Homo sapiens: one gene and its partners. The protein of the gene in region 1 interacts with the protein of each later gene in a pairwise test. Each region holds a gene or a part of one and is shown on either strand. Other genes may lie near its edges.

The links.
Region 2: the proteins of TPTE2 (region 1) and PTK7 interact in a two-hybrid assay, tested with the Homo sapiens proteins (one study listed by BioGRID and IntAct).
Region 3: the proteins of TPTE2 (region 1) and AATK interact in a two-hybrid assay, tested with the Homo sapiens proteins (one study listed by BioGRID and IntAct).

Annotation. Positions count from the first base shown.
Region 1 is NC_000013.11:19,425,533-19,429,032, reverse strand, and holds part of TPTE2 (phosphatidylinositol 3,4,5-trisphosphate 3-phosphatase TPTE2), read left to right. Parts: intron 1-2,515; coding exon 2,516-2,608; intron 2,609-3,199; exon of another isoform or gene 3,200-3,326; intron 3,327-3,500. UniProt on the Homo sapiens protein: Acts as a lipid phosphatase, removing the phosphate in the D3 position of the inositol ring from phosphatidylinositol 3,4,5-trisphosphate.
Region 2 is NC_000006.12:43,079,314-43,082,813, forward strand, and holds part of PTK7 (inactive tyrosine-protein kinase 7 isoform a precursor), read left to right. Parts: intron 1-3,500. UniProt on the Homo sapiens protein: Inactive tyrosine kinase involved in Wnt signaling pathway. Component of both the non-canonical (also known as the Wnt/planar cell polarity signaling) and the canonical Wnt signaling pathway.
Region 3 is NC_000017.11:81,119,009-81,121,221, reverse strand, and holds part of AATK (serine/threonine-protein kinase LMTK1), read left to right. Parts: coding exon 1-1,021; intron 1,022-1,138; coding exon 1,139-1,286; intron 1,287-1,641; coding exon 1,642-1,842; intron 1,843-2,213. UniProt on the Homo sapiens protein: May be involved in neuronal differentiation.

The DNA of each region.
Region 1 (3,500 bases):
ATATATGAAGTTTCTTTGTGAACTATAAATCACTAAATAAGTGTTATATGTGATAATTATCAGGCCTCTTTGTCACATAGGAAATGCCCCACCATATTTTTCAACAACTTCTCTCTTATTTCCTTGGCTCGAGCTCTGAAGATGTAATAGCCCTAACATAATACCTGAGCTTTTTTCCATCAGTAGCTTGACCAGCAGACTTCATTCCAAATAAACTGGGTCATCCCTTTTGGCTCTTGGAACACAACTCTAATTTAGTTAGTTAGTTAGTTGGTTATTTCTTCCTTTCCTTTTTTTTTTTCCTGAGCCAGGGTCTCATTCTGTCACCCAGGCTGTAGTGCAGTGGCATGATCATGGCTCACTGTAGCCTCAACCTCCTGAGCTCAAGCAATCCCCTAATTTTTTTTATTTTTTGTAGAGCCTGGGACTTGCTATGTTGCCCAGGCTGGTCTCAGACTCCTGGGCTCAAGCAGCCTGTCCACCTCAGCCTTGCAACATGCTGGGATTATAAACATGAACCACACTGCCCGACATTGTTTGTTGTTGTTTTTCCAAGTTTTTTCTTTTTCTTTTCTTTTTTTTCTGAGATGGAGTTTTGCTCTTGTTACTCAGGCTGGAGTGCACTGTCACAATCTCAGCTCACCACAACCTCTGCCTCCTGGGTTCAAGCGATTCTCCTGCCTCCGCCTCCCAAGTAGCTGGGATTACAGGCATGTGCTACCACACCTGGCTAATTTTGTATTATTAGTAGAGACGGGGTTTCTCCATGTTGGTCAGGCTGGTCTCAAACTCCCGACCTCAGGTGATCTGCCCACCTCAACCTCCCAAAGTGCTGGGATTACAGGCTTGAGCCACCGCACCTGGCCCATTTTTCTAATTTCTACTTTGTGTTATTGCTCGTCTTTTTCTCTCCGTTTGGACTAAATTCTTTTTTCAGAGCTCTTCTTCCTTTATCTAAACTGCTTCATGCCCAATTCAATTTCTACCTCCTTAATGAAATTTTTGCATTCTGCACCTTCTGTTAACTAGCCCCCAGTAGTACATAACAGCACACCCAGTCTTTGTCATACAGATTGAGTTATGTACCATTCTACTATTGTTTCTTAAATGTACAGCTCCCTGAAGGGGCCAACTGAGTCTGCACCTCCTTTTGTGTTTTTCACAGGGCCTAGCATAGACCTTTCTTATTGTGGGTGCCATTATTTCTATGAGAATGAGTCAAAGAACTAGTACGGCTTCAAAGTCATTCATTCCAAAACTTGAGCTATCTTTGGTCACTCCATCCTGCAGCCTGCACTGGTCAAGTTCAAAGATCCCATTGACAAACACAAGAGTTCTGATAAAACATGATGAGCAGGGGGACCCCACTCTCCCCCTCCCTTGGGAGGAGCATGCAGGCCCAACCCCCAAGTGTTACAGACCCCTGTTGTTATTTTTTAAATTTAGAAAATAAAAAACCATGATAAGTTATGCATTGCTTTTTGAATGTCAATGCTAGCTTTAAAATTGAGCTTCTTAATGTATTCTCAAAAAAGGCCCTAACACATGAAAATCAAATGAGACACATTAAATAATAATATTTAATTGATTAAAGTCTAATGGAAAATTCAATACTTTTTAAAAGTGCAGCACTTTTGAAAAGTGCCTCACGGCCGGGCACGGTGGCTCATGCCTGTAATCCCAGCACTTCGGGAGGCCAGGGTGGGTGGATCATGAGGTCAAGAGATCGAGACCATTCTGGCCAACATGGTGAAACCCCGTCTCCACTAAAAATACAAAAATTAGCTGGGCATGGTGGCACGTGCCTGTAGTCCCAGCTACTTGGGAGGCTGAGGCTGGAGAATCAGCTGAACCTGGGAGGCAGAAGTTGGCAGTGAGCCGAGATCATGCCACTGTACTCCAGCCTGGTGACAGAGTGAGACTCTGTCTCAAAAAAAAAAAAAAAAAAAAAAAGAAAAGAAAAGAAAAAAAAAGAAAAGTGGTTCATGATAACCCTAAACATGTTGGCCTTTAAAAGACATAAACAACAGGCCGGGTGCAGTGGCTCATGCCTGTAATCCAGCACTTTGGGAGGCCCAGGCGGGCAGATCACTTGAAGCCAGGAGTTTGAGACCAGCCTGGCTAATACAGTGAAACCCCATCTCTACTAAAAATTCAAAAATTAGCTGGGTGTGATGGCTTGTGCCTATAGTCCCAGCTACTTGGGAGGCTGAGGCACAAGAATCACTTGAACCTGGGAGGCAGAGGTTGCCATGAGCCGAGATCACGCCACTGCACTCCAGCCTGGGTGACAGTGAGACTCTGTCTCAAAAAACAAAAAACAAATGAAAACACACACACACATAAACAACAGTATTGCAACTAGAAAAGATTATTAATAATTATTTATGCATGTAGTGATTGGGCTGTGAGAGCAAAAGTACTTGATAAATACAGGAAGTCATGATAAGTGAAAAGGAACTTTTGTTATCGTTATCTAGGTTTGTAGTTCTCAATTCCATGTGTTCATTCATAGATATTGCATGACATTGAAACAGACAAAATATTAATTAATGTATATGACGGTCCACCTCTGTATGATGATGTGAAAGTGCAGTTTTTCTCTTCGGTGAGTAATCACAAAATAGCCTCTGCCATTGTTCTTGTCTGGTCTAATGATTTTATTTCAGATTTGCTTTACTACAATTCCCAACAAGGGAGGGGGAGGGGGAGGAAAACAATAAATCAGATCTATAACAAATTTTTTTAAAAGAGCGTATGTAATTTAAATAATTTGTGTTCATTTGTTTTTTTCTAAATTGTAAATTTTCTAAATTTTTCTAAATTTACCTGTATTCTCAAATACAAAAAATACAAAATAAACACAAAAAAAGTAAAAGCCAAGATGCTAAAAAAAAAAAAACCCAAAGGTACGTTTTACTGCATAGCAATGATTACATTTTGTTTTGCATCTTTTTTAAAAAATTAAGAAGTTGAGACAGGGTCTCACTCTGTCACCCAGGCTGGAGTGCAGTGGCGTGATCATAGCTAACTGTAGCTTCACCCTCCTGGGCTCAAGCAATCCTCCCACCTCAGCCTCCCGAGTAGCTGGGAGCACTGACTAGAAAGAGTTAGGTTTGGGTGACTCAGTTGGGTGAAACAGAGAAGGCAGCACAATACAACACACGAAATAACCAAAGCAGTTTTTTATTAATTCCAGAGAGAAGAGGGCAGCACACAGGGCCAACTGGAAGGGGGAGCCATCCAGGAGACCTGTGCTCGACTGATGGGTGGGAGCAATAGCGAGAGAGAGGGAGGGACCTGAGAGTGGAAGCCTTTATTGGGATGTAAGGTGCTACCTGAGCAGGTTTCCTGAGGGGAAGTCTAATTTGGTTTAACGCAAGCAGCCATGAGTCTCTGCTGTGACTGAGAGGTGGTCACTGATATATCCACATGGTCCCTGCGGAGTATGGGGGTCTGTGGGATGAGTCAAGTAGGTTATATCTAGCTGTCCCATAGTG
Region 2 (3,500 bases), on another chromosome or scaffold:
AAAATTAGCCAGGCGTGGTGGCGGGTGCCCGTAGTCCCAGCTACTCGGGAGGCTGAGACAGGAGAATGGCCTGAACCCGGGAGGTGGAGCTTGCAGTGATCGTGCCACTGCACTCCAGCTTGGGCGAGATCGTGCCGAGATCGTGCCACTGCACTCCAGCTTGGGTGACAGAGCGAGACTCCGTCTCAAAAAAAAAAAAAAATCCAAGGGTGCTCAAGTCTCTTATATAAAATGGTGTCGTATTTACATATAACGTACACACAACTTCCCTGTATACTTTTGTTTTGTTTTGTTATGAGACAGGGTCTCCTCTATCACCCAGGCTAGAGTGCAGTGGCACAATCTTGGCTCACTGAAGCCTCAAATTCCTGGGCTCAAGCAGTCTTCCTGCCTCAGTGCTCTAAAGTATGAGGATTACAGGCATGATCCACTATGCCCAGCTTCTCCTGTATACTTTAAATCATCTCTAAGGGCCAGGTTTACGCCTGTTATCCCACCACTTTGGGAGGCAGAGGGAGGAGGATCGCTTGAGCCCAGGGGCTCAAGACCAGCCTTGGCAACACAATGAGACCTCCACCTGTACAAAAAAAAAAAAAAAATTGCCAGGCATGGTGGCACGTGCCTGTGGTCCCAGCTGCCCAGGAGACTGAGGTGGGAGTATTGCCTGAGCCCAGCAGGTTGAGGCTACAGTAAGCCATGATTGTGTCACTGCACTTCGGTCTGGGTGACAGAGTTCAAAAAAAAAAAAAAAAAAAAGGGCAGGATGCAGTGGCTCACGCCTGTAATCCCAGCACTTTGGGAGGCTGAGGTGGGCGGATCATGAGGTTAGGAGAGCGAGACCATCCTGGCTAACATGGTGAAACCCCATCTCTACTAAAAATACAAAAAATTAGCCAGGCGTGGTGGCAGGCGCCTGTAGTCCCAGCTACTTGGGAGGCTGAGGCAGGAGAATGGCGTGAACCCGGGAGGCAGAGCTTGCAGTGAGCCGAGATTGCACCACTGCACTCCAGCCTGGGTGTCAGAGCGAGACTCTGTCTCAAAAAAAACAAAAAAATCTGTAAATTACTTGTAATACCTATTACAATGGAAATGCTATGTAAATAACTGTTGTATTCTTTAATTTGTATTCTTTTTTATTGTTGTATTGTTTTTAATTTTTATCTTCCCCCAGTGTTTTTGATCCTCTGTTGAGGGATGTGGAGCCCAGGGATAAGGAGTATATCTGGCAAAGCAGCAACTCAGACTCATTGGCAGGCCCTGTGGCCCTGGATGAACCTCTTAGCTTCTCAGCCTCTTCTATAAAGGGACATCCTAGAGTTGTGCTGAGGATTAAGTATAATGAAGTAGGCCGGGTGCAGTGGCTCACATCTGTAATCCCAGCACTTTGGGAGGCCAAGGCAGGCGGATCACCTGAGGTCAGGAGTTCAAGACCAGCCTGGACAACATGGTGAAGCCCCGTCTCTACTAAGAATACAAAAATTAGCTGGGTGTGGTGGCACACACCTCTAATCCCATCTACTCAGGAGGCTGAGGCAGGAGAATCACTTGAACCCGGGAGGTGGAGGTTGCAGTGAGCCGAGATCGCGCCGCTGCACTCCAGCCTGGGCGACGGAACGAGACTCCGTCTCAAAAAAAAAAAATACACACACACACACACACACACAGCCCTTTCTTGGTCTTCCCTCTGTGGTGTGCTTCAAAGATTCCTTCAGCTTTACAGTCATTCCCAACAATAGACATTTTACCTACTGGGACCCTCCATTCCAGTCCAGCTGGAATATTTGCCATCTCCTAACACATATCTGGTTTTCTCCCACCTTTCTTTCCTTCGGGCCAGTCCCCGGTTGTACATTGCCTTCTCCTGTCTCTCTGTTGCCCAGCCCCACCGCCTCTTCTTCCCTGAAGCTGTCCTATCTCTCCTGCCAGAAGGTAGACACTGTAGAACTTCTGGACTGTCATTCTTGCGACACCATCCATATTTTTGCCCCTATTGGGTTTTGTTTTAATTTACTGAGGGGCTCTCCCATAGAGTTTAGTACAGTACTTATTTATAATGGGTTCTTATGTAGGTGGTTTTTTTGTTTGTTGTTTGTTTGTTTTTGTTTTTTTTGAAATGGAGTCTGCCTGTGTCTCCCAGGCTGGAGGCATTGGCACGATCTTGGTTCACTGCAACCTCTACCTCCCAGGTTCAAGTGATTCTCCTACCTCAGCCTCCTGAGTACCTGGGTTTACAGGTGTGTGCCACTGCACCCAGCTAATTTTTGTATTTTTAATAGAGACGGGGTTTCCCCATGTTGGCCAGGCTGGTCTCGAACTCCTGACCTCAGGTGATCTGCCCACTTCAGCCTCCCAAAGTGCTGGGATTACAGGCGTGAGCCACTGCACCCAGCCGATATAACAGGTCCTCATATAGGTTTATTTAAAAAGTGAATGAACCATTTGGGTGCAGGGCAGAATGATCAAGGGTGGAGTTAAATATCCCCTTGCATCCTAGGCATGGGGAGTCTTTTGCACCCTCCCCAGCTTCTTTGAGTTGGGGTTGCCTGTTCCTCCTTGCGCCTGCTCTACGGTGACCAAATTAAGGATCAGACCTTCCTTCCCTGATCCTGGGCTGGCTGGTTTTGGTGGTGGTTTTTCTCAGTTTTGATGTGGTGGGTCTTCTAGCTTTCTCCAAGTTCTGTGCGTGGGTAAGCACCGCTACGTATGAAGCTGACTGCAACTTAAAAACTGGTGCTAAAGTTGCTTCCTCAGAGAACTGGGTAGGGGCCTAGAGTATCTATAACTGTGCTACTTGAAGAAAGACCCAGGGCCACGTGGCATCAGCATTCCTGGGAGCATGAATCAGAATCGCAATCTGCAATTTATTTATTTATTCTTTTTGAGATGGAGTCTCACTCTGTCGCCCAGGCTGAAGTGCAGTGGCACGATCTTGGCTCACTGCAACCTCCACCTCCTGGGTTCAAGCGATTCTCCTGCCTCAGCCTCCTGAGCAGCTGGGATTACAGGCGCGCACCACCACGCCAGGCTAATTTTTTTGTATTTTTAGTAGAGACAGGGTTTCACCATGTTGGTCAGGCTGGTCTCGAACTCCTGACTTCATGATCCGCCCACCTCAGCCTCCCAAAGTGCTGGGATTACAGGCGTGAGCCACCGTGCCCTGCTGCAATCTGCATTTTAACAAGATGCTCAGGTGACTCTGTACCCCAGAGTTCCAGAAGTCCTGGCCTAGGCATCCTTCTTTATACAGAATCTCAAGGCACAGAGCTTTCCTGTTGCAACAGTATAAATTGGGAGCTGAGATGCTGCACAGTATTTGAAGATTTGCTTTAAATAACTCACTTTATGCGAACACTCCTTGGGGTGATGTGTACGCTTTAATATTACCTCCTTTGGGTTTAAATTGAATTAGATTTTGTCAAGAAATTTCTCCATTAAATGTGTGACTCTAGGAAGTCTGCAATATTCAGCCTGATGTTTAGCTCCTCTCAGAACCTCAGCTT
Region 3 (2,213 bases), on another chromosome or scaffold:
CCTGGACATCCCGTCCTCAGCCAGTGATGGTGGCTATGAGGTCTTCAGCCCGTCGGCCACTGGCCCCTCTGGAGGGCAGCCGCGAGCGCTGGACAGTGGCTATGACACCGAGAACTATGAGTCCCCTGAGTTTGTGCTCAAGGAGGCGCAGGAAGGGTGTGAGCCCCAGGCCTTTGCGGAGCTGGCCTCAGAGGGTGAGGGCCCCGGGCCCGAGACACGGCTCTCCACCTCCCTCAGTGGCCTCAACGAGAAGAATCCCTACCGAGACTCTGCCTACTTCTCAGACCTCGAGGCTGAGGCCGAGGCCACCTCAGGCCCAGAGAAGAAGTGCGGCGGGGACCGAGCCCCCGGGCCAGAGCTGGGCCTGCCGAGCACTGGGCAGCCGTCTGAGCAGGTCTGTCTCAGGCCTGGGGTTTCCGGGGAGGCACAAGGCTCTGGCCCCGGGGAGGTGCTGCCCCCACTGCTGCAGCTTGAAGGGTCCTCCCCAGAGCCCAGCACCTGCCCCTCGGGCCTGGTCCCAGAGCCTCCGGAGCCCCAAGGCCCAGCCAAGGTGCGGCCTGGGCCCAGCCCCAGCTGCTCCCAGTTTTTCCTGCTGACCCCGGTTCCGCTGAGATCAGAAGGCAACAGCTCTGAGTTCCAGGGGCCCCCAGGACTGTTGTCAGGGCCGGCCCCACAAAAGCGGATGGGGGGCCCAGGCACCCCCAGAGCCCCACTCCGCCTGGCTCTGCCCGGCCTCCCTGCGGCCTTGGAGGGCCGGCCGGAGGAGGAGGAGGAGGACAGTGAGGACAGCGACGAGTCTGACGAGGAGCTCCGCTGCTACAGCGTCCAGGAGCCTAGCGAGGACAGCGAAGAGGAGGCGCCGGCGGTGCCCGTGGTGGTGGCTGAGAGCCAGAGCGCGCGCAACCTGCGCAGCCTGCTCAAGATGCCCAGCCTGCTGTCCGAGACCTTCTGCGAGGACCTGGAACGCAAGAAGAAGGCCGTGTCCTTCTTCGACGACGTCACCGTCTACCTCTTTGACCAGGTGGGCCGCCGCCACCCGGGGTCTGCCCGGGGCTGGGGGTCGCGCTCCCGCAGGAAGGGGTGGGAGCGGCCGCGGCTCCTGGCGGCCGAGCTACCTGGTGCTCTCTGATTCCTCCAGGAAAGCCCCACCCGGGAGCTCGGGGAGCCCTTCCCGGGCGCCAAGGAATCGCCCCCTACGTTCCTTAGGGGGAGCCCCGGCTCTCCCAGCGCCCCCAACCGGCCGCAGCAGGCTGATGGCTCCCCAAATGGCTCCACAGCGGAAGAGGGTGAGCAGGGGCGGGGCTGGGCCCGTGACGTCACGGGAGGCAGGGCCTGGTCCGTGCTGTGTGGGAGGCGGGGCCTAATGTGTGACATCATGGGAGGAGCACCTGGTCCTTGACGCGTGGGAGGCGGGCTTTGGCCCGTGTCGTCATGGGAGGCGGGTCTGGTACGTGACGTCACGGAAGGCGGGGCCTTGTCCGTGCTGCATGGGAGGCGGGGCCTGGGCCCGTGACATCATGGGAGGCGGGGCCTGGGCCCGTGACATGATGGGAGGCGGGGCCTGGGCCCGTGACTGTGGGAGCGGGGCCGGGCCGGGGTCCCAGGCTGTGAGCGCGAGTGACGCCGCGACCTGGGCTGCAGGTGGTGGGTTCGCGTGGGACGACGACTTCCCGCTGATGACGGCCAAGGCAGCCTTCGCCATGGCCCTAGACCCGGCCGCACCCGCCCCGGCTGCGCCCACGCCCACGCCCGCTCCCTTCTCGCGCTTCACGGTGTCGCCCGCGCCCACGTCCCGCTTCTCCATCACGCACGTGTCTGACTCGGACGCCGAGTCCAAGAGAGGTGAGGCCTGGGCGGGGCTGTGGCAGAAGGGCACGCGGGAGGCAGGGCACGGAGCTCCGAGGGTGGGGCCCCTCCGTCTAGGTCCTGGGCCGGGCCAGCCCCGGCTCCGCTCCGCTCCGCTCCTTCCCGGCCCCGCTCCTTCCCGGCCCCAGACCTAGCCTGGACCCCGCCTGGCCCTCGCCTGGCCCTCACCTGACCCTCACCTGACCCTCACCTGACCCTCACCTGACCCTCACCTGGCCCTCACCTGGCCCCTGCACTCGGCTCTCCTCTGCCTGACCCTACCCCGCAGACCTGCGGCAGGCCCTCTCACCGGAACCTTCCCAGCCAGAAGTCCCTGCAGACCCAGGTCCCACGGTGCCCCGGCCCCA